Linked DNA regions of Homo sapiens: region 1 is linked to region 2. Evidence: fine-mapped expression QTL. A gene starts in region 2. The other region holds a variant in brackets. All regions are shown on one strand. Distances are from middle to middle.

Evidence for each region. PIP is the estimated chance that this variant, and not a neighbour inherited with it, causes the effect.
Region 1: its variant is fine-mapped to the expression of PALMD in tibial nerve (GTEx, PIP 0.97). The same link has a PIP of 0.9 or more in left ventricle.

The regions. Positions count from the first base shown.
Region 1 is chr1:99,668,888-99,685,058 of GRCh38, reverse strand. All of the region lies in intron 3 of PALMD (palmdelphin), which reads right to left. Among named protein-coding and RNA genes, the nearest start is that of PALMD, 31 kb to the right of the region's middle. The variant C/A (reference allele first, on the strand shown) is at 7,012.
Region 2 is chr1:99,637,208-99,653,378 of GRCh38, reverse strand. PALMD (palmdelphin) reads right to left here and starts at 7,266. Exons shown (of 8, transcript NM_017734.5): 1 at 7,017-7,266. The coding sequence starts at 7,061.

The sequences.
Region 1 (16,171 bases), 32 kb before region 2:
TATGTCTTTCTTTTTTCATCCCCTGTCCCACAGGGTGCTTACCTAATTTGCCTGTTAGAGACAGTCTACAAAGGAAAGCCTTTTGGTAGAAAACAAGAAGGTTCAAATCATTGCTTCAAGCAGCTCTTGCACATCAGGGCCTAGCTGTGGAATCAGGTGGACCTGGGTTTGAAACCTGGTTCATCTGCCAGCTTCCTGTGTGACCTTAGACAAGTCACCTGACCTCACTAAGACTCAGTGTTGGGCTGAGAGAAGTGGCTCATGCCTATAATCCAGCACTTTGGGAAGCTGAGGCAGGAAGATTGCTTGAGCCTAGGAGTTAGAGATGAGCCTGGACAACATAGTGAGACCTCAGTCTCTACAAATATTAAAAAAAATTAGCTGAGCATACACCTGTGGTCTCAGCTACATGGGAGGCTGAGGTGGGAGGATTGTTTGAGCCCGAGTGGTCGAGCTTGCAGTGAGCCATGATCATACCATTGCACTCCAGCCTGGGCAACAGAGTGAGATCTGGGCTAACAAACAAACAAACAAACAATAAAACTCATTGTCTTTATTCATTCATTCTTTTAAAAATATTTACTTAGCATCTACTTTGAACCAGGCACTCTTCTATGTGCTGGGGATCTTACAGTGACCAAAACAAAGTCCCTGAGCTCAAGGAGTTTATGTTCTAGTGGGAGACAATACAGGGGCTGGCAACCTTTTTCTATAAGGGGCCGGATGCCAAATATTTTAGGTTTTGCAGTCCACATATGCTTTCTGTTTCTTATTCATCTTTTTTCCCCTTTTTCTTTTACAGCCTTTTAATAATATAAAAACCATTTTTAGCTTGTGTCTGTACAAAATCAGGCCAGGGCTAGATTTGGTCCTGGGCCATAGTTTGTCAATCCCTGCATTAATAAATGTGTAATACAAATATGTATATATTGCAGATGTATGTACATACATATATATACACATAAACACATTTATTTATGAAGAAAAAATATTTTTGATGAGAAAAGCAGGATAGGGGCTGTAAACAGCAAGATAAAGAATATAGAGAAAGCCTGAGGAGGGGGCACTATTTCACACAGTGTGGTGAGGGAAGTTTCTCTGATAAAGTGTCATTTGAGCAGAGACATGAAGGAAGTGAGAGCGGGAAACATGAGGGTTTCAAAGGGAGTGTGCTCCAGAGAGATGGAAGAGTAACTATAGAGAGCGAAGGAAGAGCCAAGAGAGTAGAAAGGTGAAATGAAGTCAGAGAGGAGGCAGATGACCAGATAGGCAGGGCCTTGTGCATGGAAGGGCTTTGGGGAAGCCACTGGAATTTTGAACAGAGAGGAAACATGCTATGACTTGAAATGTAAACAGTTACACTGGCTGCTGTGTGGAAAATAGACTGGATGGGGCAAACATGGAGGTCAATTGTGCTAAAAATCTAGATGAAGATGGTGTAATCCAGGTTGGTTGCCAGTAGAAGGGTGAGAAGTGGTTGGATTCTAGAAATATTTGACAGAAAGAGCTGTCAGAATTTGTTGATGATTACATGCAGGGGATAAGAGAAAGGGAGATGTCAAGGTGATTCCACTGTTTGTGACCTGAATAATTGGAAACATGCAATACAATTGGCTGAAGAAATCTGGGAGAGAGAAGAAAGGGGATTTGTGGGGGATGTGTTAAATTTGAGACAATCAAGTGTGATATGGAGAAGACAGTTGGATATACAAGACTGGAGCTCAGAGAAGTCTGGGTTTGAAGATATACATTTGGGAGTTGGTATTTATCACCACAGGAGTGGATAAGTTTCCCTAGAAAGTGAAGGAGATAAGAATTCCAAGGCCTGAATCTGGAGCAATTCAACATTTAGAGATCTGGTCAATGTTAACAACTTCATAGGGTGTTCGTTTCTTTCTTTCTTTCTTTCTTTCTTTCTTTCTTTCTTTCTTTCTTTCTTTCTTTCTTTCTTTCTTTCTTTCTTTCTTTCTCTCTCTCTCTCTCTCTCTCTCTCTCTCTCTCTCTTTCTTTCTTTCTTTCTTTCTTTCTTTCTTTCTTTCCTTCTTTCTTTTTGGAGACAGAGTCTTGCTCTGTCACCCAGGCTGAAGTGTAGTGGTGCAATCTCGGCTCACTGTAACCTCTGCCTCCCAGGTTCGAGCGATTCTCCTGACTCAGCCTCCTGAGTAGCTGGGACTACAGGAGTGCACCACGACGCCTGGCTAATTTTTGTATTTTTAGTAGAGATGGGCTTTCACCATGTTGACCAGGCTGGTCTCAAACTCCTGACCTCAAGTGATCTGCTTGCCTCGGCCTCTCAAAGTGCTGGGATTACAGGCATGAGCCCGATGACTTCAGCTAGTTTCTTCCTGTCTCTGCCCCTTTCTTTTCCTGGGGCATAGAGACAAAGCTCCTGGTCTGCTTGGCCAATGACACCTTAGGGAATTTTGAAATGCACTGGTGTTTGTTGTTGTTTCTCTCTGAAGATAAAGCCGTGGGTAATGTAATGCCATATGATTCATCCCAAGAATCTCTTTAGACTAATATGGTAAGAATATGAGGTTGAAAGCCTGCAAACCTCATCAGCGTATCTGTTAATGAATATTTTTGAAGGTTTTCAAGTCACTGGATGAAAGTTGCATTAATAAGTCGCTGTGGTCTCACAATACATCATGACATGTTTGTGAAAACTAAACATAAACAAACACCTCCCTCCCATTCTTTATCCCTTAGTCACAGCCAACTCTGAGTTGAAAAGGATAACTAGGAAACATCTTGGTACTAATTACTTAGAATCACAAACCTCTAACAGGAGATGCCTACTGATGTAGAACATTTCCTAAAATTTCCACTTCAATGCAAAACTTGACTTCTTATTTTTGTATGTTGATTTGATACTTCAAATATTTATGGACAATATAAATATCAGATGAATGTTAGAGATTTGCTGCTCTAGAAAAGCTTTCTAAAAGATCAGAATGCTAATGGAAATGATGAGAGACTTAGAAAGCATAACTGAGAGTAAGGAACTGGATGCTCCCAGAACCCCCGCAACCTCCTCCACTTGGTCAGAAGTCAGCAGTAGCCCAGCAATGGAGAAGAGGAGGTTTGACAACCTGTACACCAGATAATGCACTGAGTTTTTGAGGACTGACTGTCCTTAAGGAGCATAAAACAAAAATTGCAACTAGTAGGCAGGGCAATTTTTGTGTATCTAGTACAGTGGTTCGTAACCAGAGGCGATTTTGTTCCCTGGGGATATTTGGCAAAGTCTGGAGACAGTTTTGCTTCTCATAACTTGGCGAGGGTGAGGGGTGCTGCTGACATCTAGTGGGTAGAGGCCAGGGATGGTGCTGAATGTCCTGTCATGCACAGAACAGTTTCCTCACAACAAAGAATGATTTAGCCCAAAGTGTCAATAGTGCTGAGGTTGAGGAATCCTGGATACCTAAAAGAATGCCTGGTATAGTGTAAGTTCTTGATAGGTACTTTATAAGGAATTTGTTTATATCCATTTCTTTTATATTTTTATTTTTTTCCTCATTATTCCTTCCCATTCCAAGATACATATACGTTTGTGTATCTGTTGTTTTTCCTTGTTCAATGACCATTCATAGTTAAGAGAATATTCGGCCCTGATTTAAAGCTTAAACAATGCAAGACTTAAATTAGGGACTCATTCCTAATCCCTTCCCAAAGGTAGTTTTGGGGAAGAGAAAAAATTTGGCAAGTATAAATGAAGTATTGGGAAAATATATAGGATGGAATTTGAAATCAGATATTTACTTACAGAGTCTGAACTCTTACTCCTCTCCAATTAGCCACTATAGAAAAAATATATATATTCCTTAGGGTTATTTTGTTGTACTGGGGATTTTTCTGCTCAGCGGGTTAGTCCATCTAACAAGGATTAAAGTCCGGGCTCTATACATATATATATATACATACACACACACACACACACACACACACACACATATATACACACACATATATGTATATATATAGTCTATTTGCTGGGGAAAAAGAGGGTTATTTTCAAGAGCTCCTTGGGTAAAAGCAGGTAGCTTTCATTTCATGAACTGTTGCAGGAATAACCTCCCTTAATCATCATGAGATAATGTCTCCAATCCAATTCCAACATGCAATTTTTTGTCTTGGAAAAAAGGACAGCACATAAATGCTGGATGCATCAGGAAGAGGTTTTCCAGAAGGCAATATATATATATATGCATATATATACACACATATACACATACATGTATGCATGTACATAGATATACACACATATATGTGTATGTATGTGTGTTTATGTGTGGGTGTATATACATATATATGTAAAATTAAAATTTTTTCAAATGGAGAGCTTTTGGGGAGGTTACTGTGGGGTAACTCTCTAACTTTCACATGCCTATCTTTCAGCTGATGGGTTAGAATTTCCATAAGTGCTGCCGTCCCCATCTTTAGAAGGTATTACCTTTCAGAATGGGAATTGAGCTCCTTGAAATGCTGATTCAGTTTGGTGAGGAACAGGCAGCAGAGAAAGAGAAATATCCTCCTTGGTGCCTCCCAGGCTGTTAGGTGGGGCTTGATGGATGAGTCAGTACCTCTCACAATTTCTGAGAGATGGTGGGCAGGCATCATGTGCCAATTTAGATAAGCAGAGTACATGAAAAAGGATTTGTAATGCTATCCATTATTGGAATCTTGCTTTTCCTTGCCTATTCACTGGGGAAAAAGAGGGTTATTTTCAAGAGCTCCCTGGGTAAAAGCAGGTAGCTTTCATTTCATGAACTGTTGTAGTAATAACCTCCCTTAATCATCACGAGATAATGTCTCCAATCCAATTCCAACATGCAATTTTTTGTCTTGGAAAAAAGGACAGCACATAAATGCTGGATGCATCAGGAAGAGGTTATTTCAGAAGGCAATTTTTCTGCTGCTAAGGGTCCATTTATCTCTCTCAGCTTTTGGTGGAGTTAACAAGGACTCACAACCTGATAGAGTTTGCCATTAGGGGCCAAACAGATTGGAACTCATGAGGGGAAAAACCACACAAACCAAAATTCAAAAGTCATCATCCTACCTTTCAGTACTTCATGTGTTAGCATTTATAACATTTAACACATATTGCATATTTCCATTGCACCAGGCACTGGCCTATTTCGTCCTTACAGCAACCCCCATGAGCACTGTTGTTAGTTCCAATTGACAGATGAGCAAGCTGGGCACCTAGAAAGGCAACCGGCCCAGAGTCTCACAGGCAGCCTGAGGCAGGATGGAATTTGAAATCAGATCTTTACTTACAGAGTCTGAACTCTTAACTCCTCTCCAATTAGCCACTGTAGAAAGAAAACTTAAAAAAATTGATTCTTAGGAGCTTAGACACAACATTCATTTAGCTCAGCAGTATTAAGGGATTTTTTACTTTCTATGATAATGAAGGAAGTGAAGATTGAAATGATAGCTGGGGCCCACGAGTGTGTAAACGTGTTGACCCATTATATACAAAGGTAATATTTCTGTCCTAATCTTCGTTAGGGTTATTTTTCTGTACTGGGGATTTTTCTGCTCAGTGGGTTAGTCCATCTAACAAGGATTGAAGTCCGGGCTTTATCTTTTTTTTTCCTTTTGGCTGCTTGACTTTGGTTCTGGTAGGAGTTCTTAGAACGGTCTCCTTCAAAGAATCTGGGGTTTCCTAAGCTAATGCCACTTTATAGCAAGACTTTCTTTGCTTCCACACAAGACTGTGTTGTTTAAAGTAATTAAAGCAGTAGGTCTTAAATATAAAGCTGGCTAATGCAATTTGATTGTATTACTGCAGTTTCAATGTAACTACCAATGCTAGGTATGAAATTAAGTTTATGACTGGCTCTTATCTATACTTTGAAGGGACTGATGAATTACTTGCGTTTCAGTAGCCCAAACTCTCTTATTAAAAGCCAGGACTACACCTAAAGAGAGGGTCCAATGGCTATTTCTCTGGGATGGCCTGAGTCAGCAGGTGTTATGCCACTACTGATGTGCCTCTGAGGCCGGTCGATGGAAGTGCTAGGACCAAACCCCCACCCCCAACATTCCCCAAGCTAGATAAAGAAGGATTTTTTTTTTTTTTTAAGAGTCAAGGTATCCCTGTATTGCCCAGGCTTGTCTTTAACTCCTGGGCTCAAGAGATCCTCCCGCCTTGCCTTGGCCTCCCTAAAAGCTGGGATTACAGGTGTGAGCCACCATGTCCAGCTGGATCCAGTTTCTTTTGGGACTCACAGGCTCTCAGAGTGTCTTTGCCTCTGATAAGTATTGAATTCTGCCTAGAGTGGTGAGCAATTCTAGCTTGATTCTCCCCTAGAGATTCTCTTCCCTTTCTTCCCCACTAAATCTTGGGAGAACAGGAAACAGCTGGTGGTTTACCTATATTTTGTGAGTTTTTTTGTGAAAGCCCACTTTCTCAGGGGAAAAAAAGACTTTTTACAGCTCTACCCATGGAAACAGAAAATGAACCCATCTCAAAGCTAATACACTTGGCTTAATCATTTAACCCCTCCAAGCTTTTTTTCTCATTTAGGGAATAATAGTAGTATTCACTAAAGGTTGTCTTAAGGAATTAATTGAGGTAATTGTTCATAAACCCCTACAACAGGGCTTGATGTAGAGGAGTTCCTTAGTAAAGATGAGTTACTGGGCCAGGCGTGGTGGCTTAGGCCTGTAATCCCAGCACTTTGGGAGGCTGAGGCGAGTGGATAACTTGAGATCAGGAGTTCGAGACCAGCCCGGCCAACATGGTGAAACCTTGTCTCTACTAAAAATACAAAAATTAGCTGGGCATGGTGGCACGCACCTATATAATCCCAGTACTCGGGAGGCTGAGTCAGGAGAATCGCTTGAATCTGGGAGGCAGAGGTCGCAGTGAGTTCATGCCACGGCACTCCAGCCTGGGTGACAGAGTGAGACAGTCTCAAAAAAAAAAAAAAAATAGAAAAGGACTTACACTTTTCTCCTTCTTAGTTTGCTTGAGAGAGGAGGACCACCTGTGACAAC[C/A]CCATTGGAAGACAAAAATCTAGCAGGTCCATTTGGGTGTTTGATCTGCAACTTTAGCAAGCATGGTACTAATATAGATTCAGGGACACACTTGTCCTTGCAAATACTGATCTAAACAGAAAATCTCAACAGTGATCCAGCATGATTGGAAGAGTTGTAATAATATGTATGAGGATGATGTCTATTTAGTAAATGTGAGCAGAAAGAACATCCTAGTCTTTTTTGACAACCTGTCGTTTCCTCTCTCCACACCCCATCCCCAGTCCATTCTCCTTTTGTTCTTTTTAGTGATAGAATGCCCTGAGTTTTATACGACTTCCTGGCTACCTTGCTATGGACTACATTTCCCAGTGTCCTTGGCATTCAGATGGTACCATGTGAGTAAATTCTGGCCAACAGGGTATTAGCAGAATTGACATCTGCAACTGTCAGGTCATGCCATTAAAATTGAACTGCTTGTCCTCCATTTATCTTCCCTTCCTGAAGTGGAATGCAGATGAGGTAGTGAGCTGGCTTTGACTGTATAGCCAAGGGCATCCCTTAGGAGGTAGCAAAGCAACAAGGCAGAAAGAAATAGGGCCTCTAGATAACCTCATGTAACATTGATGCTCTCCTCTGCTTGAATGTCTACCAGTTAGGATTTGATGTATGTGAGAGAAATGAACCTTTCTATCTCATTTAAGGCACTGCTCTTGAGGACCCTTTTAAAGTGACAAAACCCATATGCTGACTATTGTGTAACTTTATGGGGAATGAATTGTAGTGTGACACATTTTATGAGATTTTTCATAATTTTTTTCATTGATTTGCAGAATTACTCATTAGTATCTTGCATTTCAGGTTGTTAACTAGAAAAACAGAAAAATTAATCAGTCTTTGCTCTCAGTGGTTAAAGGATTTATGTGTTTCTAAAAAATGTATCAAATCTGGCATGATATGTGTTGACAGCTGGCTACTACTGAATGGTTAAGGTTTGCAGTGAAAAATGAAAGGTCTTTTTACTTTTTTAAATCATAACTCATCTAAAATAATCTCTCTGGAAATTCAATGGCTATTATTGAGTACATACAGTTGACTTTAGTTATCTTGACTGCAGTGTGTTAGTCATATGTAATAGGCAGATAAATTACTACTGATGGGTCAGAGGTTAAAGATATTTCATCTTTGTAGATAATTTGGCCAATGGTAGTGCCAAACTACATTTTCTTAATAAAGTTGAGGGTCATGTAATATATTAGAAGGTGAGCTTTTTTTTTCTTTTTTTACTTTTTAAAGTTGGGGTTTAATAAATTTCATCAAAATATAACAAACCTTTATTAAGGACCTATTATATGTCAGGCATATTTTCTTCACTAAGCTGAAATAAAATCATTATCTTAAGTGAAATAACTCAGAAACAGACAAATACCACGTGTTCTAACGTATAAGTGGGTATGAAGTAATGTGTATATATGGACATATAGAGTGGAATACTAGCCACTGGAGACTCAGAAGGGTGAGAGGGTGGGAGGGGTATTAGGGATGAGAAATTACCTAATGGATACAATGAATATATTGGCTGATGATTGCACTAAAAGCCCAGACTTCACCACTATTCAGTGTATCCATATAACAAAACTGCACTTGTACCCCCTACATCTACAAAAATTTTTAAAAAGTGCGTATCAAAAAAGATGAAGAATAATTCAGTGCATAGACAGTAGGTGAGAACAAAAACTATCCAATATGGCTGGTGTCCTTAAAAAAAAGGAAGAAGAAGAACTGCCTTAGAACCAGCCATTGTCAAAGGGCATGTGTATAATAAGGAAGATCTAGCCTACTAGTGCAAACTGTCACATGCTAGTGGTAAGCATGCCAGAGAATTAAAGGGCATTTGGCATACAGCAAACACTAAGTTTGCCACAAGTCAGATCTATTGCCTCTAATCCTGAGCATTTAAGAATAGGACAAACAATACAATGCAGCAGTTTTAAGATAACAAGAAGCAGAGAGGCAAGGGAACAATGACATTAAAACAAGCATTAGTTTGCTCTGATGGTTGGGAACAGAGCAGATGTTTAGAAAGCTGACTGATTATATGTGAATAGCTTTTGCATGGGTGAATCTCATCTCCTAATATAACTCTGCAAATATTAATAATTATCTTATGGGCAGATGATAGTATCCTAATTTGAAACTGCCGTGTAGGCATGCAACGTTAGAAGAGAGTGATTTAGTAGAAAAGCAAACCCTCTTAATCAGAACAATATTTTGCAAATTGAGGGTTTCATTTGCCATGAAAAATAAGAAACCAAACTGGTTTTCAGAGAATCAGCCACTATCATGCACAAGTTATTAAACAAATGTCATTTTCAAATGAATGCAAATAAACATATAGTCTCAAGGTTGATGTGATATGAAGGATTGGTTTGTTATGGGCTTCTCAACTGCTCTGGTGGGACAGAAACTAGGTGTGTGTGTTTTTAAATTAGGGCTTGTAGAGGACCTTGTAGTACATGCCAAACATTTAATAGGAGTGAAGTAATTGTAATAATTTGACTTGTACCCAGCTGTCATGAGTTTCCCAAGTGACCATCAACTACTGTTGTGGCCAGGACATGGCAAGTTAACTGAAGATATACTTATCCATGATTCTGGTAAGCCTCTTTTCTTTTCCTAAAAATAAATTGTAGAGAAAAACATTTCTATGAATAAACTACTTGTAATTATATAATGAAATGGCAAAAAGTATTCAATGATGTAGATAGTGACTCTTTCCTTTCAGAAATAATTCCTGGCTTTGTGCCTTGGTAACCCTTAACATTTATCCCTGACTATATTATACAGCAGTCACTATATTTTCTATTTTTTATCTACTTCATTTTTGCTTTGTTTCTTGATGTTAACTGTTCATATTTGATACCAAGGAACAGGACTCTATTGTTTGAAGATCAACAAATATAAATTCCAATCCTAATAAAACATAGAATAACCAACAAGAATCAGATAACCTTGGGTGGTCTAAATGGACGAAGTGACATTTGCCTTATGGCAGACAAAAGATGCATCGCAAGGGGGTGGGTGTGGAAGTTTTTTGAGCTGGTAAAATTAGTCACGGGAAACTCTCCTGCAGAATGCAGAAGTCTAGGCCTGGTGGCAGGCAGCACAGATCCTTTCTCTATTACAATGAGTCGCTGCTCTTGAACATTCATCCTTTATGACCAAGGCTTGGAGAACGGGTCACTGAAACTAATTCACCTCCCACTTTCTGGATTGTTCAGTTGCTCCTTTGTTTTGTCTTTACTCATGTCAGCACAGCCAAAGATTTATGACAACTCTGCTAATGGTGTCATATTTGTATTTCAAGGCACTGAATACCATTTGAAGTGAGATAATAAATGTAAATGCATTTTGAAAAGTTAAGGGATTTAAAGAGAGAAAAACAAATTTTTTTTTTTTTTGGGTGGGAGTTTATATGGAATCTTCTCTGTAAGACTCAAAGACTTACATATGGCAAGTTCTCAATAATGTTCATGGAATGAATCAAGAATAAGCAGTGTGAGGTCTGGTGGGAAGGGTCTGGAGTCAGAAAGACCTATGTGTGACTCCTGGCATGACTGTTGCCAGATTTATAGCTTTCTATGATTTAGTGTCCTTATGTACAAAATGAGGCTAATTAGACTTCCCTCAGAGAATTGTCATTCTCAGAATAGTGCTCCATAAAGAGTAGCTGTTGTTAAATAAATTGAAGTGGAGTGGAGGGAGGACCCTCAGAGTTTATTGCAATCTACTTTTCAGCTTATCATGGTGGGGGCCAGTAACCATTTAATCTTTATTTCTACTAACATATAGATGAGATTGGCAGGTATGAGCAAGAATGAATGCTGAAAGGTCGGGATAAGGAAATAAAAGGGCATATGGAGGAAGGGAACATGGAGAGAAAGTAAACAAAGTGCTGGTGAGATGTTAAAACATGCCATTGATAATTGTTTAAAAAACCAGGGCACTACTACCATTTAACTTTGCCCTTGACTCAAAATAGCTGGATGTTTATTCTTTTCTTATTTTTAAAAGAGTTTCAAGGCTTTCCTTTTCAGTTCATTAATGTTCAAGTCATTATCTAGGCTTCTTTAGCTGGTCCTCTTAGAAAGGTAGTATTTTTAAGTACTAACATTCATCTATACGTCATCTATTTTACTCATTCATTCACTTATTAAGCTATGTATTCACAGGTATTCCTACTATGTGCTAGGCGTTGTACTAGGGGCTTGTATGTGTGTGTTTCGGAGGGTTGGAGTGGGTAGACTTCTTCCCTTTTTTGCTTTTAAGTTTGGTTTACTTGGCTTTTTTTTGTTAAAAGTGAAGCTCCTGAATTAAAAATAATCAGACTATCTGGGAAATTGAAAACAACAACAGATGAACTATTACAAATCTGGTAAACCAATTAGTCAAATATGGAGAGTGAAAAACATGCTTGGAACGATTTTGACTCATGTAATTACCTTAGAATAATTTCTTGAGTGTCTCTAGGCAACAGCAAATTTAATAAGAAACAAATGGTAGAGTTTTTTTTCGCCTCTTTTTTTTTCTTATGTTGTCATAAAAGAGCAGCTTGTCTATCTCTCTGCTATGTGGTATTAGATACGGGTTAGGGTAGGAAGGCAGAAACATCTAGAATGTAGTATTTTTCACGTAGCATATCTCACCCGTGTTTGAGGAAACATTAGTTTCATTAAGGTACAATTGACCTGCACAGGTAGTTAAAAGCATTAAGTAGGGGTTAAACTTGGATGGAAATAATAATAAGATAAACTTTGATAAATGATAACCAGTAACAAAAAAATTTAACTTTTATATTTCTACATCAATGTTTTGGGTTCTCTTTTGAATTGAATTTTGCCTGCTCTCTTTTTAGTTAATTGAGTAAATTATTGCTTTACATGATATTGAGCAGAATGCATTTTCCTGGGTTTCAGCTCCTTTTGTGGAGGAATTTTCCTTAAGTTATGTGGGATGTGGCTATAGCTGCTGTACCAGCCCACTTGGCTTTTCTCATGACACGTAGTCACACAGACATCCAAGGCTTCACATACACCTTTGCCCATTTGTATCATCTGTGGAAGGCGGTTTCTAACTATTTGGGGGACAAATGAAAGTTCATTAAAAGAAGGCAGAAGGTCAGAAGGGCACTTTGGAGTATTAAAAAAAAAATCCGTGCTAGAGAACATTTAATCATAAGTAGCTTATCCTTCCCAAAGGGAATGCAGTGTATTTGCATCATTCTCCTCGGCAGTTGACCTTTTACATTTCATGCTTATGACATTTCTGTCAGGCGCTCTGTGTGCTCCAATTAAAGTCAGAGGTCTTTGGACACAGTTCAAGAAGTAGAGTGTCTGGCCGGGAGCTTGGCACAGGGCAGTTTGGCTAAGGGAGGTCATGGACAACTGCAGGGCAGCTGGATAGGAAAGAAGAACCCAGGATGTGAACAAGTTGCTGGGGGCATACCTCCTATGGAGACTTACTGGGGGTGTCATTTTGGGTGTGGGCTATTGGATAGAGGAGAGCAAGGAAAGTGTTAGGACAAGATTTCTAAACCAGGTATAAATTTGTGCACATGGATATTTGGACTGAAAAATCAGTGCACCTGTGCCTACAATCAGGCAGTAAATGGTTCAGTGGTCGCAGTAAGCGCAGGGCTCTTTTGGGAGGCAAATTGAAACTCTATTTAAGCAAAGTGATTCAGAAGGAGACGTTCAATATAGGCTTCCCCTGGGAACATTTCCTCCTAAGGTATTAATCAGGGCACAAGGCAAAATACTCCACAATATTGTTTGAAAGCTAAGAATGTAACTCAGAGACAGAAACCATGGAAACCCACTTATTTTCTGAAATGTTGCCTCTCTTTGGAGGAGACAACGACAGGATGAATAAGCAGATATGCTTTACTTAAAGGTTATGTGTGAGTCAGGGTACCCTCTGAATGTCTTTAATATGTTAAATATTCAGGTAAATGTCTACATAAAGTGGTACACATAAAAGTGAAATTGTAGCATAGATTGGAAACTTAAAAATGCTATAAAAGTATAGAGTTTACAGCATTTAACATTTGTAAAAAATTTCTACAGGCTCTGAGGTGCAATTTTATTTTTATGATTAGGACTTTTAATTAGGTTTTAAATCCTGGCTCTTTACGTTTTGCTGTATGACTTAGGGTGAGTTAGCCTCTGTAAGTGTCAATTTTTCTCATCTGTTAAATGTTACCTACCTAATAGGGTAGTTGTGAGAACTCAATGAAATAATGTACATGAAATGTTTAGCACAATGCCTGGTCCACAGCAAATGTTCCACAAAAATTAACCTCTATGGTAGCATTCTAGACTTTAAGCCATAAAAAAAATCATAGATTATTTCCAAATGGAAAGAATCCTCATTGGTTGGTATTCTCAGTTTACTCCAAGAAAAACACTCTTTGTACTAGCATAAAGAAAGGAGAGAACTTGGCCAAAAAATAAAAATACCTGGATAAAGATCCGTGCAGTGTTGTTCTTCTAATTTCACCTTTTAGTAAGGACTAGTATTTAATATTTTTTGTACACCTCCATGTGTCAGGCACTCTGTATTCACAGCAGTCCTGTGAAGTGGCTATAACTGTCTCACATTACAGGCAAGGAAACTGAGGCTCAAAGAAATGAAAGAACATGGCCAAGCCTGTGTACTATGTCAGCAGAAGAGGGATTTGAATGCCAGAGGCAACGCTATTTCAGTTCATCTTACAACGCCTTAGAAGTAGAAGGAAAGAAAGGTTCATGGGCAAAGTCTGGCCCTGCTATGGACTCCACGGTAATAGCAATATTTCTACTTTGATGTTCCCATTAAAATCTTATCCTCTAGCTGAGGGGGCCTGGCAGAGTGGCAAATGTCACCCTCGAGCAGGCACGTAAGTCAAGTGATAAATCACATTCAGAGTTTGAGTTACTTTCCCTGCTTAGGGATTGTGAGTGGGTCTCCCTAGTTCAAATTCATCAGTTGGCTCCATTGCTACTCAGTGCTAACAGGAAATTGTACTGATTTAGCTGGTAATAAGAGCTTCTCAAGCACTGTGGGTACTTGTTTAGGAGAAAGATTGAATTTAAAAACATGCACCTGATTTGTTTTTTTGTTTTTTTGTTTTTGTTTTTTTTAGCAGCTTTACAAACATCTGAGAAGAAAACGTTCCATTATCAGGTAAAGCTGCTTTGGCAATGTGATTTTTATAATGCTGGGCAGTAGGGGAGGTTGCTTAATACAGACAAGGCATAGATATTTTTTCTCTGTGTGTTGCTTTGGAACATTCTGTTGCTGTTATATTTTTAACCAGATAAACCTGCCTCTATAGGTCACAAGAAAACAAATTCTTTACTATTTTTTTTTGCAAATACATCTTTTTAGGATCATTCCTTAAACAAAGCAGTTTGCTGATTATTAGAGATACTTGTCTGTGTTAGGTGTTTTACTATTTCTAGAGCATTTGCATTTACAGCTCTCTTCATTTTTCAGCTGGAGAGCACTGAACCTGGCTTGCTTTGAGATCTAAGTCTACCCTTTACTGACTCTGTGGCCTTAATTAAGTCACTTTCTTTCTCTGCGCCTATTTCCTCATCTGTGAAATGGAGGTGTTGGCACTTTCTTTCTAGGATTGTTGTTTTCGATGACTTAATGTAAGTTCAAGTGCTTTGTAAATTATACAAGTTCCTTTAAAAATGAACCATTACTATTATTATTACTTATATTTAAGGACTAAACTCATTTGGTATTCACAAAGGAGTATTGATGGATTTAGCATCATGAAGATCTAAAAGTTGTAGTGAGATGCGAGAAATTGGGTAATGAACAAACATGGAATCAGTAATTTACCAAAGAGAATAGGGGGACATAGAAGGAGACCCTAAGTGTGGTTGGAGATTTTGGAGAAAGGAGAGCAAAGGGACAGAACACACTTCAAAGATTTTCTATAAGAGAGAATACCTTTTCAGTCCACAGAGGCTGCTGTGTGCCATCATTTCACAGGCACTGTGGAGTAGTCAAATGAGTCAGTCCCTGACCTCCCACTTCCTAGTTGTGTGAATTCCTTAACTTCTCTGAAAGAAGTGAAGGTAATAATACCTACCCTCACCGGGTTATGAAGATTAAATGGGACAATATATGTAAAGTGCCTGCTGTATACTATGGCTTATTAAATCTATCTCTCTCTTCCTCTCCCTCCTCCTTCTCCTTTTTAATTTTTGGTTAGGAAGGAGCTCTAACTAGACCAGCCACTGTCAATACTTCTGGGAGCTCGTGTGCTTCTCAGAGCATTCAGGCAAGGCCTAAAAGCAATCAGTAGAGTCCTGGTTAATACTCGGATTACTCAGAATGCTGCCCAAGCCTGTTAATGGAGTTTGAGTATATGTAGCCACTTCAATTATCATCAGATGCAGAGAAAGTTGTAGGTGTTCAGTGTGTGGAAAGACTCTAAAAGGAGGTTTTGAGGGGAAGCAAGTAGGTGTCTGTGCAGTGGGAAAGGTTTACGGGGATTAAATTCAGGACTCCTTCAGAGATAAGGGTTCTGTGTTGAGGAATAAAGAAAGTAATCACCCACTTATGCCGGGATCTTGGTGAGAATGTCTTGCTAAGGGATGCCTTGATAAGAATTGAGTTTTCCAAACTATAGAGTTGATTTATTGGGTTATTTTTAAAGTATTTATTATCCACTATTTAGAAGCACTTCAAATCTTTGAGTAAATAACTGAGGGGTTTATAAATGCAAACATTTCAATTATATAACCTTTTAAGAATTGTTAATTTCAAAAACATCTAGATAAGGATGAACAGTCAGTTATTTTAGCTATTCAATATACAAGTGCATGTAATTAATCAAGTAAAATGGAAATCATTTGAAGAGAGGAAGACTTTCTTCATGTTGTCAGTCTTAAGCCTAATGAGATCTGTTTGTATAGTGCAGTGAGTATGGACAAAATGCGGTCGTAGCACAGATACCAAATACTTTTGTGTTTCAGATCTTTTCTACAGTCCTCACTAAAGGCAATACATTATAGCGAATGAGGTTTTGAAAGTCGTCTATATTCAAAGATGGGTAGACTTTAATTTGTTGTCGTGATTATAACACAAGAAATTCCATCTTTTAAATATTTTCCCTTTGTAG
Region 2 (16,171 bases):
ATAGTGACAAAACAAAACCAAACCAGGCTAAACAACAAACACAAAACAGACCCCTGAATAATCAAGGGGTGATGGTAAATTTGGCCGGGTCTTCAGTGAAAAAAAATCTGTCAGCAGGCCAGCCAATCAGTAGCTTTCACCCTTTCTCAGCTTGATTGTATTTGTTCATTCATTCATTCACTCACCCAGGACAGTTTTTTTGTTTTGTTGTTTTGTTTTGTTTTGGTGCTCCAGCTAGTGTTGAGCTCGTTGTTGAGGGAACTGTGAAAGATGCAAGGATGTCTTTGTCTTGAGAATTCCTGGCTGCAGGGAAGAGGCTACGTAAAGGAAGTGGGATGGGGAGGAAGGCAGAGGAAAAAGGGGCCTGAACTATTAGGTGCTCTGAAAAATGACTTTGATTCTGTTCCAAACCTCTTAAAAACAATAACAAATACTTCTGAAATGACACCACAGTCTCTTCTTGCCCACTTCTATTCCTTGCAAACTGGGGAAGGTGGGAAGAGACTGCAGAGGTGGAGAACTGTTTTGGGTTAGAAAATGTGGTTAAGCAAAGCAGACCCTCCATAGTTTCTTCTCTTGGCTCCACGTCAAACTGTATTAATAAGAGTGAACAATAGAAATCTGAGGAAGTTTTCTTTCTTTTCTTTTCTTTTCTTTTCTTTTCTTTTCTTTTCTTTTCTTTTCCTTTCCTTTCCTTTCCTTTCCTTTCCTTTCCTTTCTTTTCTTTCTTTTTTCTTTCCTTTCCTTTTCTCTTTTCTGTCTTTTCTTTTCTTTTCTGACGGAGTCTCACTCTGTTACCCAGGCTGGAGTGCAGTGACGCAATCACAGCTCACTGCAACCTCTGCCTCCCAGGTTCAAGCAATTCTCGTTCCTCAGCTTCCCAAGTAGCTGGGATTACAGGCGCAGACCACCATGCCCAGCTAATTTTTGTATTTTTAGTAGAGACAGGGTTTCACCATGTTGGCCAGGCTGGTTTTGAACTCCTGGCCTTAAGTGATCCGCCTGCCTCAACCTCCCAAAGTGCTGGGATTATAGACATGAGCTACCATGCCCAGCCAGAAATCTACGGAAGTCCTGAACAGGGGTCAGGGGTGTGATGTTGATGTTTATAAAAATTTGTCATGATGCTGTGGTCAGAAAATCTGATGAGCAGAGGAATAGATTCAAGTTCCGACATTTGACTAATTCCTTAGCTTTTCTTGGCCTAGGCTTTCTGCCATAAAATGGGAATGATAACATATGCTTTTGAAAATACTCATAGGACTACTTGGACAAATGAGATAAAATGGATGTGAAAGTTTTATTTTTCATAGCCTAAATGCTATGTAAGAATAGGCACTGTTATTATTGTTAGAAATCTCACAATTCTTTTTCTTAGGAGATGTCCATTTTATTCCAGAGTTGTTAGCGTAATTGATTAGGAATAGCTGTTGTAGCCCACTTTGCTATGTTACATCATCCTGTGTCAATCACTGATACATTTAATAGATTGAAAACTTGATGCTTAGGACAGAAGCTAGTTTTGAGTTCCATTCAGAACTCCTGAGGATAACCTAGCTCTACCTCTTAAGTGGCTTGACTGAATCCTCTCAGTCCCTGGGATTTTATGTAAAAACTTTAAGTATAGATCTCATTCAAACTGCTTTGATGATGTTTTAGGAAAATGTGCATGCCACAGGGTTCTGGGTAAGGGAACTTCTTAAGGTGGTAAATTTTCATGGAGTCTCTTCCCAAAATGACATTACTATCATTTAAATAAATTAAAATATTCTTATTTCTTTTTAAGAGAGGGTAGGTAGTTAGAGACTGCAGATTAAAAAGTGGAAGTCCTATTGCAGTTTTAGAATTGAACTGTGTTGCATTTGTTTATACTCTGGTTAGTCTTAGATGCTTATTCTCTAATTTGTTTTAATCACAGTTTTCTAAAGAAGCAGCTTTTCCTTTCAACCATCCAGTAATGTTCAGAAAGTTCATGGGGATCTTTGTCAGTAGAGGAGTTAGCAAAGTAGCATTATCATTTTGTTGCACAGTGGAAAAACCTTCCCCAGTTATCAAAAAGCAGTTTCCTTAATGAGCTATCAAAACTATTATACCTCATCACATGGTGTCCTTTATGGGTGGGCTGTTATGTTTGGCAAAGAAGTGTGGCGTACCACATTTGTTTGAAGAAACCTTTCCCTCTCTGGAAGAAACATGTAATCTTGGTACAGCACTGTGGAAAATTGTGCTGAGGTTTCATTGTTGAATATTCCAGAATGGGACTTTTTTATTTAGAAGACTGCTACATCTTCATGTACCATCTTCATGTGAATTTCTTTGGAAGCTCCTGACAAATTAGAAGTTGTTCCTCTAACTATGTCTTAATCATGAGGTATGTTGGTTAACAATGGGGCATTATGCATTCTTTGGCCACTAGTACTTTAAGAATTCCTTAGAGCTCTAAATAATACAATGATCCAAACACGTGTTAGGGTATGCCTTTGTTAAAGACACAGACTAGTTTACACTTGTTTTTACTCTCTTATTTGTTCAGATAGAACGAATAAGGAAAAATATGTATGGCCAGTCTGGAATACAGAAGCAGGGCTGACTTCTTGGGTTTGTGACCTGTGAAGTCACCCAGGTCATCATGCTCAGAAGGGCCTAGCACTTAGATCAAAGCTCTGTTGTCACCACCTTGACATTTTGAATATTTTTTGAACAAGGGCCACCACAATTCCCTTGTGTTTTGGGCCCCACAAATCACACAGCAGGTCTTGCTTTTGGGTCACTAACTGTCTTACTGACTGTTAGAAGAGCCCAGATATTGACAAAAAGGGAACAAGATGAGGTAGAGTGCCCAGAGACACTTGTAACAGGGAACATGTGCTAAAGAAATAACTAGAACCCATCCGTGCTCATGTTCTTGTTTTAATGTTGGTCTTTGTACTGTGGAGATTTCTGTTTTATGTAAAGAACTCCATGTCTCTTAAATTCCTATATTTACAAGTCAAGAAAAATTTATTTGGGTATTTGGGAGTGGAAAGCAGTAGGGAGTTGATCAGGGGAAATGTGAGAGCTTTTTTTTTTTTTTTTTTTTTTTTTTTTTTTTTTCATTATGAGCAGCTTTGGCCGGCAAAATCTGGCTCTGTTGCTCAAATTCCAGTGTCAGGACTTTATATGGCTCCTTTCCAAATGGAGGCAGTCCTAGGCAGGTGCTTGTACTTGTGATTATTTTTATTGTCTAACTTTTGACAGAACTCACCTCCTTCACATCTAGGCTCAAACGTCACCCTCTTTGTGAACCCCATCCTGACCACTCTATTTTAACTTACAATGCACTCCCATCCCCACTCCTCACATTCCAGACTCCCCTTATTTCACTTCTTTTCATTTAAATGCACAAGGCTTGGTGCATAGTAGGTGCCTAATAACCATTAATTGAATAAAGGCATGAGAGACTGTGTTGATAACACACATTCCTTACAGTTAAAGGTAAGCCTGGAGGAGAATAAAAATGTCAGCTTTCTTCTTACTCTCTTTTTCTCAGTTGAGTCTGTTCTCTGAAATTGGATTCTAGTTCTTAAACTTCCTCTGAGTTCATCCTTCAAATAGAACTGAGTCTATGATCGCAAGACAGTTTAAGATCTAATTTTCCAGTTTGAGCATATCCATATTTGTAATGGTATTTTCCAATGTCGCTGTAGGCATGGGGGTAAGAAAATGTATTAGCTGTGGAGGAGATGTTAAGAGTATACGGAATGTTACTCATCCTAAGGGAATCTTTGTGTTTCTGAGGAGAGACCCCTGGGCCTTTTCGTTGTTCTTCAGTGTGGGCCACGTTCACTTTCAGACAGTAACTCTGTAGGGATAACTCTGTCAGTGGTACGTTCAGTCCTTCATCTCACGCTTCTTCATCTCACTCTTCTCGAGAATGCTGGAGTCATTGGTATCCTCAGTTCCAGTATTGTTAAAGGTGAATTTCAAATTACTAGTCTATTTCAAAATACTATTGAATTCCAATTAGCTCACCTTTTGTAGAAAGATCAGCTATTTGTTCAAGTGTGTACTGACTTGAAAAGGGCCTCAAGAGACATTTTAAAGATCAAACATAATAGTTAATTAATTTTAAGCAGCCCTGTGTTTAAATTATAGTTGAAAACTGAACTTCTAGGCAAAGGGGTACTTTGACCATTAATTTAGTAAGGGAAGAGTTGGTGCATGGATAAAGTATTAAGGAAGAACATGAAAGTAATTGTGTAAAATAGAATCTATATTTGGTATACCCAAACTGAAGTATCTACCCTTGAACAATTGTTTCTGCATACTTTCATAATTTTGCTCTTATTCTCTTTAAATCTTTGAGAAGACATCTGACTAATCTAAAATTCAATTTACTGATCTGATATGAGAAATGAATGGCATCACGATAGTAATTTAGTTTTCAATTTGAGAGCCTAAGTGTCACATTTCAACTACTTAATGTGTTTAACCTTTTTTTTTTTTTTTTTGAGAAAAAGAAAAAGACTGGCACTTGGATCTTTGTTCTGTCAAATTCTAGGTATATACGTTTATTTTTTCAGTTCTTTGCAGTGAAAAATAATGACTTTTTAGGCACTTGAAACCAGGTAGAATAAATACAACTGTGAAGATTATTTTATTTTATAGCCAGCAATTGGAGAAACGAATTTTAATGTAAAAAGCAAATAGATCCTAGAGTGTAAAAGTTTTTTTTTTTTCCTCCAAAGTGAGGTCTATGTGTTGCTATGTCTGGGTGCATTGGGGAATTGCCTTCTGATTTCATTCTTGAAGTATACAAAAAATTATTTCAGTGTAGGTAAGTACTAGGAAAAAGCTAAAATGAGAAGATACTCTCTGAGTTTTAGTCTAGGTTGGAGATTCTGAGGCTTAAGCATTTCCAAAAATGAAATAATTCTTGCAAACTCTCTGCATACTCTGTGATTTTATTTTCCTAGGGGGAAAGAGACTAGCTGAGGTGGCTTCCTGGGCAAGGCAAGGGCGAGGGCGAGGAAAGCTGGCGTGTCCCAGGGCGTCCAAGAGGGAGGAGAGTGGATGTGTTGTTTCCATGGACACACCACTGCTCCACTTTTCCTCTAGGTGGTGACAAATGTGACTGGATTTAGCCTGGTGAGGTGTAGGCTGGTTTATGAGAAATTTGTTCCCATAAACTTTTTCCAGTTTTTTCCCTACAACCTTTATACAAGTATATTACTTCCAAGCTAGAATTACTTTGTGATCTTACTTGGGAGATTTGTTTAATCCTTTCTAATGGGATATATTTAGGCTGATGGAATAATCCAAAAATTTTTTTAATCATCAAAAAAGCATACATCTGCATATTCAGGAAGCTACTTACTCTCTTGATGGCTTTTAAGACATTATGAGGATTTTCTGTCTCTATTTGCGTTTGGAACCTTCAGTGACTAAGATTCCTAGCCTTAGAAATAACTGTATACAGCCATATCTTTGGAACATGTGTGGCTTTGGTAAGAGTTATAAGGTACACTGGAGGGAAAAAGGGCTTGAGCGAGGGTGTCCCCCAACTGAAAGAGGCAAATTCAGAACAAGGGTCTACTTGTCTATTTCAATTAGCTAATTAGGAGATATAAGCATTAGAAATAGTGGAGCCTGTGACCACACAACTCACGCAGTCTAATAAAGTAACCTTTAGACAACAGCTGTAATGTAAAAGGCCCATGCCAAAAACAACAGAGCAGAGCCGAGTTCCTGTCCCTTAAAGCAGGACAGCTGAGATGGTGGCTGAGTTTAATGACAAAAAAGGACAAAACAAAACAAACAATAATCCCGACCAAGGTTTTCTGAAGAGAGGAAAATGTAATAATTAGAAGCTAGACATTTAACAAAGCATTGTTTTATGGAAAAGTGCCAACCTTATCAATAGACTTCTGGTGTCTTACTATTGGCTAAGAAGACATTTCAATTTACTGAATGTTTCCTGGGTGAAACTAAGATATTGTATCAATTAGTAAAAAATCTAAATTAGGATTAGCATAATTAGTTATGCAATGAAAATTTTAAGAACAACAACAAAAAATCCCTGATCTAGCATCAGTTTTTAAAAAGTACTCATTTTTTTCCTATACCTAATGTCAGTGGCAGAAAATGCTGAGAAATTGGGATATTGCTTTCCAAAGATCTTTTTCTTCTTAAAACAATTACATCAAAAGTTATAGCTAGGGATAAATGATTGTGACACAGATTTCCAAGTTACTGCCAAATACAGGGTTTTATAAAATTAAAAAGAAAGCTGGATCATTTAAGAAAAGTAATTTATTTCTGGCTTTGACTTTTTCCCGGAACAAACATAAAAAATGTACGATTTTCCTTCTCGGTATTAACAAAATATTTTCCAAATCCACTGCATGCACTGCATTCCTTTATCAGGATCTTATTCAGTTTGTGACTCTGCTGGAAACTGATATCTTAGAATTAATCTGATACGTGCTTTTACCTAGTTTTCTCTTGTTTAATGCTTAAATTACGTATATTAACATTCATTTTAATTATTTTAGGCTTTCTGGAACATGCTACCACACTACAAATATAAAGTTTCAGGTCATTTTTAAAATTTCTTTTTCTCTCTTTAAAAAAAATTCTAACTTTTTGAGGCATTCATAGCTTAAAAAAGTTTCCAAGTTGGGGATCTGTTTTTTTATCTAATGCCAGTCAAATGGACATTTAAGGAAAAACTGCATTTCTAAGGTACACCACAGAGTGTGAAAGATAGTTAATCAGACTGCCTTAACAGCTTTTGATTGTTGTTTAAAATGCAGGCACAGCCTTTTTGAAAATCAAGAACGTTTGCCCTGCACTCAGGTTCTGAAGCCCCAGAGTTACAGAGGGTCATGAGGGTTAAGAGAGAAACAGAGACTCGTCCATGAAGGCTGACAGTTCTGTTTTTCCACTTGCGAGGGCTCAGCGACAGGGGCAGCCGGCCACGGTCTGCCTTCCTCTAAGTAACAACGTTAATGAGTTATAACTGTATGCAGACTTACTGTGATGGCCTGGAGTCTTCCCTTCACCAGCTCAGCTTCTTCCATTCTAGAAGTCAAGGACAGTCAGACGGGGAAGCAAGTCCAAAGCTACCATAAATCAAGGAGCCTCCTGGGGGAGAGGAGCGGGGGTGACAGAAGAGAAGCAGGGAGAAATCCGCTCTTTGCACCAGTGGAGAAATAGAGAAATTCCCGACTTGTCAGGAGCGTCTCCGAGCAGATGCACAGATCAGGCCAGACAGACACATGTAATGAGGGTGTGCTGGGGAGGCAGACGCTGAGGCTGCTGGCATGAGTTGACTGACAAGTTTGAACGGCAGCGGCACAAGCCCTTTTCCTTCAGGAGCTGCCAGCTCTTTGTTGTAATGTGCACAGTTAGCAAGGCACATTTTCTTATTAACTGTTCCTTACCCAATTCATTATTTTCCAGGAGTGGCACAGAGAGCCAACACACTGAGTGTTTAATCAGCCTCTGCTCTAGCAACACACAGCCATCCCCGGATGTGTTGGTCTGTGTGTGTTTGTACAAAGCTCGTTTACCTGCTTGCTAGCTCTAGGGGAGAGAGCCTTACCTTGACTGAGGCAGAAGTGCCAAGTCACTTGTTTGCCTTTCTTCCACTGATTGGATTTGATAATAATACAACAATCTATAGCTACTTTAAACTTCATGTAGTGGTAAATTTACATTGGTTCGTTCTCCCCCGTCTACACCCCACCCCCGACCCCCCTGCTCAGCACTTTGTTGCAAACTTTGGAATCTTTAGGTCATGGAGAAATCAAAGGTGTTAATGTGACTATATTAAGAAGTTGGCCCACCAAGGTATTTAGTGTGGCTTAAGCACCAAGTGCCACCTTTTGTTATTGCTTGACTTGGATTTCTATGGAATGCAGTTTTCTTTCTTGGACGCTGTTCAGAAATGACACTCTTGGCTTTCAGGAAGGTGCCCATTTTGACCTCACCGGTTACGCAAGAGAGAGGAGTGAGCCTTTGAAAATGTGATGAGACATTTGGTAACTGCCTGGAGCCCGGCACTGTGTGAATATTCGCCCATCCTTTAGAAAAAGGCAGGCAAGCCCAGTGAGACTCTTAGGTCAAAGCAGAGGCTGGGAAGCTGTACAATTGGCTCTGTCTGTTTTCTTTTCCCTACAGGTTCTTTAATTAAATTTTGCTGAAGTAAATCCTAATTACCAACTACCTTATTATTATGTGTTTGAATGCTATTAAGCGCTTTCATATCAACATTCAGCTGAAGAGGTTAAAAGGACAACCCAAACATTGAACATATGGTTTAATTTCCTTTGCAGTTTTGATATTAGTAATAATAATAGCTAATATTTGTTGCATTCTTTCTACAGGTAAATGCATACTTGCAAAGTGCTGAGAGATAAGTGCTATAATCCCTACTTTAAAAATGAGGGAACAGGCTCAGAGAGGTAATTTGCCATATAGCTAGTAAGTAGCAAAGCCAGGATTGGAACACCAGCTGCCTGACTTTATAAGTGGCATTCATCAAGGACTGCCCAAGGACACGGGGCAAGGAGAGGCACAGGCTGAAGGTTAAGTCAGTCTTTATGAGAAGTGGTTGGACCCCCAGCCTCCTTCTCTGTCTAGCTCCTAGAACACTACAGCTGGGTGTAACAGCCTAAGGCAGAACGGTGTGGGAATGTCCTCTGGAGAAACTTATTGGCCCTACTGAGGTTTCCCCACATTGTTGACTGGAGTTCCCCAACCACAGAGCCCTCATTCTGTCAGTCACTATAAGGTGAAACCCATGTTTTAAGAGTCTGAAATTATACTTGAGAGTAGTTTGTCCTTGCTCATACACCCTCAGAAGGGATACTTAGGGAGACCAGAGAATGGGAGGATTGTTTGGATGTGTGCCAAGTTTGATTACTGTTGGAAACATATTTAAGTGTAAAAAAAATCAAACCTTCAAGACTTCTGATTATGTTTATTTGTAGATCCTGGCTGAAATTAAAGACAAGAAAGCAGTAATGATAAATATCTCAGTCAGAATTGCATATTTGGTGCCTAGAACAAATGGGCAGTCATCCAATTATTAGTCTGGATCTTTTCCTAAAAACAATTTACCTCTCAAATCTCATTTCTGCTAGAGGAAAACCCAAGATTTTGCTAGTGTAGGGGAGGACAAGATTTAAAAAAAGAGGATGGGAATTTAGGAGGGAGCAGAGTTGCAACAACTGATTGGTATCATCATGTGAGTGGTAGGCAGAAAAGGCTGGAGCTGGGAAAATCTGGGGGACCTGAGTGGAATCCTGGAGCCAGAGCTCTGATGGTCTTGACAATCTCCCTTGGACTGCAATACAGATTAGGATGTTTCCACTCAACTTCGCCTCCCTTTCTCTTTCACCTGCCTCTTAGACATGTCCAGCTCCAGCCTTTTCTGCCTGTCCTCCCATGTTCTCTCATACAGTCATTTCTCCTAATAAAATTCTGTACATTTAACCCATCTTGGCATTTGTTTCTTATAGGATCCAGAATAACATCATCATTTCCACATCTACTGTATTTTGTTTACTTAATCTTTTATTGTCTACCAGAATGTAAGTTCCAGGAGAGGAGAAATTTTGTTCAGACACCTAACACAGTGCCTGACACATCAGAGGTTCTCAATAAATATGTGCAGAATGAATAACAAATGCTTAAAAAATTAACAAGTATTAGTATTGTCAACTAAATGAATGAATAAACACATGATGAGACACATCAGTTGTCAGCAACCAAAGTAGTCCAGTGTTTCTCAGGAATTTTAGCATTCTTGCCATGCTCAGTCACTGGCTGGGAGTAGCCCCTGGGAAGCATAGCCTTGAAGCAAACATAGGAATGGATTTCAGAGTGAAACAGCTTGGGACTCTTGGGTCAATTATGCTCCTGGAGTTCAATGTCTGAGAGGCACTTTCTCATCAGCCATAGTGATAAATGCTATGGAAAGAAAATAGAGCAGGGAGGAGAATAAAGATGGCTAAGGCAGGGAATGTTGCAATTTAGAATTGGGTCACTAAGGTAGCCTCAGTGAGAAGGCAATATTTGAGCAAGGTCTTGAAGAAGAGGTGAGAGTTCGTGATGAGGATATTTATGGGAAAAGCATATCAGGAAGGGCCTGTGCAAATGTCCTGTGGTGGGCCATACCTGCCATGTTTTATGAACAAGGCTAGTGTGGTTAGAGAGCTGGGACTAAGAGAGGGTTAACAGGAAATTTGGTTGGAAATGTAACAGGTCCCAATTCATGCAGGGTCCAGTAGGCCATTGTAAGGACTTTAGCTTTTAGTCTGTGTGGGATGAGAAGGCATTGAGGTGTTTTAAGCAGAGGAGTGTTTTGCAAGTGTGAAACAGGAAGACTAGATAGGATGTTATTACAGTAATCCAGATGAGAGATGATGGTGGCTTGTGTCAAGGTGGTAACAATGAGAGTGTTACCACCTTGGTTGTACCATGGTTGTACCATGGATAACTTTTGATTCTGTTGGTGGATTGGATATAGGGGTTTAAGAGAAAGAGAGGATTCATAATCACTCTTTGCCTGAGTGAATAGAAGTCGCCATCAATTGAGATAGTGAGGTTGATGAACTAGGTTTTTTTTTTTTTTTTCTTTTGAGGGAGAGGATGGATACCAAGTTTTGGAAAAGTCAATTGGTTCTCCACATGGAGATGTTGAGTAGGCAATTGGATATACGAATTTGGAGTTCAGGAAAGAAGTCTCAGGTGGATTTATAAAATTTATTGTAACTACGGAAGGATCACAAAACATCCAGAATTATAGTTCAAAAAGCAGTATATGTTAGCGAACTAGCTTCCATTAAATATTAACCTTATATTAATGACCAAATTCAGCCTTTGTAAAATAGATATATAATAGAGCACTATCTGCTGTCATTTATCTTATTGAACTACTTTTACCAAGTATTTTTGTTGTTTTCCAGCCAGTGTAAACGAGGATGGCAAGAGTTAAAAGTTACAGTCAATTAGTTGACATTATATTAGGAGGTAGGGATATAAGCGATTATGAGACAGTGCTCCTTCTTACAATGAATTTACTGTCTGGCTGGAGAGATAAGACGCGTGCTCAAAACAATTAGAAGACAAAAGAATAGTAAACCAACCGTTGTTGTATTCCGATGAAACAAAGTGCTAACTATTGCACAATTTGAGCCCAGAAAAGTATATCATAGTGAATGATAGTAGTGTGTGGGATTAGCAGTGAGTGCAACATGAATTGAAAATTGAGGTTAATGTGAGTTGCAGGAAAGCGACTGCAGGGAGAAAGTAGACTTTAGAAGCAGAGAAGCCATTTCTAAGCATGAGAGGGGGTGAAACAATGTGTTAGAGGTCCATAAGGGAGAGTGTCCTGTCTGGAGCAGAAAGGAGAAATTAGAGAGATTGATAGAGATATACATTTATACATAGAACTTGATGTTCAGGGAAAGTGGGAGAGAAAAGATCAGATTCATATTTTAGGGAAATAAAACTGCCAACTGTCTCAGAACATATAGAAGGAGGGAAAATTCAGGTAAAGAGATCCATCAGGAAGGGTGACTATGAAAGAGTCTGTAGAAAGAGCCTGTAGAAGGAAACTAAAAAATTGCTGATGTTCCACAAAAGGAAAGGTCCCCAGTGTTCTTCCTCACCTTCAGAAGGTCTGAACTCAGAGACCACAAACTGGATGAACATGAAGGACAAAGTAAGTAGAGGAGAAGTGTTTAAGGTGCTAATACAAATGTGTTAGAATCCAAGGGGGATGGCAATGGGAATGACCAATAAGGAAGAAATCTACAAGAAATTTCAATAAGAGTGTTCAACTGGAGAGAAGGATGAGAATTTGATAGGTTCCAAATGAAGTACAAAATAGGAGCTTGAATTGGAAATTTCAGATAGAAAATCACAAAGAAATGAAATCTAATGAAATAGTGGCAGGAGAAAATTGAAGGATGCCGAAGGCAGGATGTATATGTTGAAAACATCTCTAGAGCCTTTTTGAAACCAGATCCCGTGTTAAAAAACTGGATGCTCATTCTCCTTCTCACTCTTCTCTCTTTCTTTCTCTCTCTTTTTCTTCCCGTCTTTCTCTCTTTATAACTTCTCAGACTTCTGGAGGCCAGAAGTAGTGTCACGCTAAGAATACGGTGTTTATTTTTTATACGACATCTCTGAAGGAACCATTAGAAAAATCTTCACTTTCAGATTTACCATGTGCTAATGAGTGTGTTTCTATTTTCTTTTGTTTAATCCTTGACCCTTATTCTCTCACATCACTGGACAAGGTGAGTTTTTCATCGACCTTTTATTCTTTAGTAGACCATTGGAAGGGATTTAATTGCCATAGGCAAGTAACAAATAGTATGTGAGTAGGTTGACCACATAAATCAAATTAAAAAATCTGACCACATAAATCAAATAAAAATTATTTTGATTTGTTGGTACTATAACATACCCATTTCATTGTGAGGTAATTTGAGCTTTATGGTTTAAAGAGTAAATGAGGAAAAAATAGTAGGCTTCAAGACAATCTACAGTACAGATGCTTATCTTACTTGAACTCTCCATGACACTGGGCAGAGTTAATCTCTCCTTCTCTCTTCACTTGGCTTCCAGGACACCTCTCTTGATTTTATTTCCATGTCATTAGTCTCTCCCTCTCAGCCTTCTTTGCTGGTTCTTTCTCCTTTTCTCAATGTCTTAAAATTGCAGTGCACTAAAGCTGCAGTTGTTGGTGATCTTTTCTTTTCTATTCCTTTCCAGTCACTCTCAAGATCTCATTTACTCTCATTTTAATGCCATTTAGATGCTAAGATTCATGCATTTATTTATATCTCCAGCCTAGACTTCTCTTCTGTGCTGGAACTCCCTTACCTTAGAAATCTGTATGCCTCATTCTCTCACCTTCTTAGGTCTTTGCCGAGATGCTACCTTCTCAATGAGGCTACCTTGACTACACTATACAAAACCACAAATCCCTCTTTCTGAAACTACGAATCCTCCTCATCTCGCTCTATTTTTTTTTTTTTACCTTTGTCATGTTCTGTAATACTATATGACACACTTTTCTGGGGGGTTTATTGCCTGTCTTCTTTCACTAGAATGCAAACTCCATGCAGAGAAGGTCTATTTTTTATCTGTAGTCTAAGTACTTAGAGCAGACTGGTACATAGTGGACACAACAGATAATTGTTGAATGGTAATCATTGTGATCCATTTGATTGCACAATATGTGTCAAATGCCTTATAGGCCTACTTAATGGATTGGGGAAACTGACATTCAAAAAGATTAACTAATCTACCAATGGGTGATATATCTAATAAGCAGTAAAACCAGGATTTAAATCTAGAACTGTCTGGACAAAAGGTTCCATCTTTATTCACCATACTATCCTACCTCTATTTTTTCCTTAGTTGCAATGAGACACCACAGCACAAGGTTTAACCAGACGTAGAATACAATATTATGCATGATTCACAAATTCAATCATTTCGATGATTTGTGGAATTGATTTTTAAGACTGGAAACAGTTTACAACCACTTTTTGACATTTGCTTAAAGATTAGAATATAACATTTTGTAAGCAAACAGAGTCCACAATCACTTTTTCTTTGAAATTTGCTTGAAGCTTAGACTATAATTTTTTGTAAGCAAAGTATTCCAGAGATAGACCACTACAAAAAAAATTCTACTTGCATGTAATCAAATAGTGTGTGTGGTTAAGCATGCTGCTGTCTCTTTAAACAGCTATGCAGTGCTTTCCAGCTAAGTCTCCTAGAGGTCAAACAACTGCTCCATTTAGTGGAAAAGGATATTTAACTAAACCAATTGACTTTTTAGAGATAAAAGGTGCAGCTGTTTTCTGAACACAGCCTAAGTTATCTAATATCCTATCAAAAATAACCACAGATAAAAAATAACCTATTACCAAACCAAGCACACAGCAAAGTCTCCCCAAATACCCATCAAACAAATTGAAAATGTTCTATAATTTATTTCCCTTCTCATGTCCATGTAACATGAGAAACCAATATTTAACATATTTGAGATCTTACATCTTAGTTTCCTCTGCCTCAGTTTACAAATGGACATGAAAATAATCAGCATCATAGAAAGTATTAGCATAGCTTTAAACTGGAGAAAAAGCAGGAGGCTAAACAGTCTGTAATTATCATTCCACAAAGATCAAGTGCTATAGGGTACCTCAGCACAGTGCATTTTTCTCTATCAATTTCCCACTTACACGTCCACACCTTGTGGTGCTTTTATACCCTTGTACAGTGTGTACCATACAGGAGGATGAAAAAGACCATCTAGGTTGAACTTTAGATGTATTTGTTATGAGTAAGAGCATTCAGTGTGGACCATTTGCCTTATTCACTTTCCTTCCTTTGTTAGTAGTGTAAGGAAGCCGCCCTTCCCTCAGCATTGTTTTCGGATTTGGGTGTATTTAAAAATGCTGTTCCACTGTGATACCTTTACTTGACACTTTCATTTTTAGCCAGTCAATTCAACATAATATTTAAAATATTTGGACCAAAAAGTGTTCCTGAAATCAAAAGCATTTTGAATACGTTAATAATATGTGGTAGTGCATACTAAACTGGATGTTTAAATTATCCAGGTTGCTTCTGTGTGTGCTCAGCTGTTTTATGAGCTTTAAAAATGTGGGCTTTTTTTGATTGTTGTTTTGAGGGTTATTTCTCCTTTTCTCTCAAAGTTTGTGATTTTAGTTTAAAGAGTAACTGATTGTAAGTTTTAGCATTTGGGTAGTTTCTGCCCTAGATTTGCACAAAGAAATACTAAGTGGGGTTTCTTCTATCAACTGAACTTGTTGCATTCCCTTTTTCTCCTTAAGTTTGAATCTCAATTTTTGTTGGTATAGCAAAATAAATACCCTCAAATTTATATTGATCTCATAAATGCAAATAGAGAAATTAAAACTGATCGTTGAGAAGCTGCCTTGCCTATAAAGAAGTCATTGATTCTGTAGCTCTACTAGACTCCCAAATGTAGATATGGACCTAATATGTGTATATAAAATACTTACATTCCCCCATAAAGTCTTGAAGAACAATTTGGCCGTCATAGGAATACAATTTGGAAACTGAATATGGAATTGTAAAAGGATGTCACCGCTAAGTGGAAACCCAGTACTTTGAGTTCTGATCACGTAGTCATTCATCTATCCATACATCACGTAGTGATTAAATATCTGTTGACTCTGTAACTGACATCATGCTATGTGCAGAAATAAAGATAAATAAGACAATGAACTTTTTTAGTGGAGAAGATAAGAGGTACACAGAAGACAAGTTAATACTGCATTAAAAGTGAAAAGTTCACCAAAGTCAGAATCAGGACAAGGAAGGCCAGAGTTCAGAGAAGTCATCCTAGCAGAGATAGCAGTTGACCTGAGCGCTTGAGTCTTTCAGATTTGGACAAGTAAGAGTTAATTAACCAAGAGAATGATTCCGGGATAGGAGGTATAGGGAAGTAAGGGGGACACGGCACAGTCACAGCCCCTGAATTTCTAGATCATTATAGATAAACTGAATAATTTTTCTAGGTGCAGAATTTTTAGTAGGTAATGGAATGACATCTTACCAAATTGTCCATGAACAGGCTTATACATCCCCAGGTTATTATGTAAGGTATGTGATATTCAAAGACTCTATGTGTATACATATATACACATATATATTATAAATATGTTTGTGTCTATTAATGATCCTTAGCTAATTCATGTACATCAAAATCTTGTTTCTCTTCCATTAGATAGTTAATGAATGTAGATGGTTTTGGAATCAGAGGTACTGGCTTATTTTCCAACCTTTCCATTTAGTAGATGAGTGAACTCAAGAAAATCACTTAATATCTGAGAGAGTGCATTTTTTCAGGTGTACAATGATGGGAATAAGAAATATGTCAAAAATTTTTTTCATCAAGATTAAATTAGTATTTAGGTAAAGATGGTAATAGGCTACAATAAATGCTTAATAAATGGCAACTTTACTATTACTATTTACCTTATTGTACAAGTCCAGTTCTTAGAAATGTATATTAAATCTTGCAGGCATATTATTATTTCTTTCAGTGCTTTTACATTTGCTGAATGCCTCTTTTAACATATATAACCTAATACTGCAATTGACTTGTTTG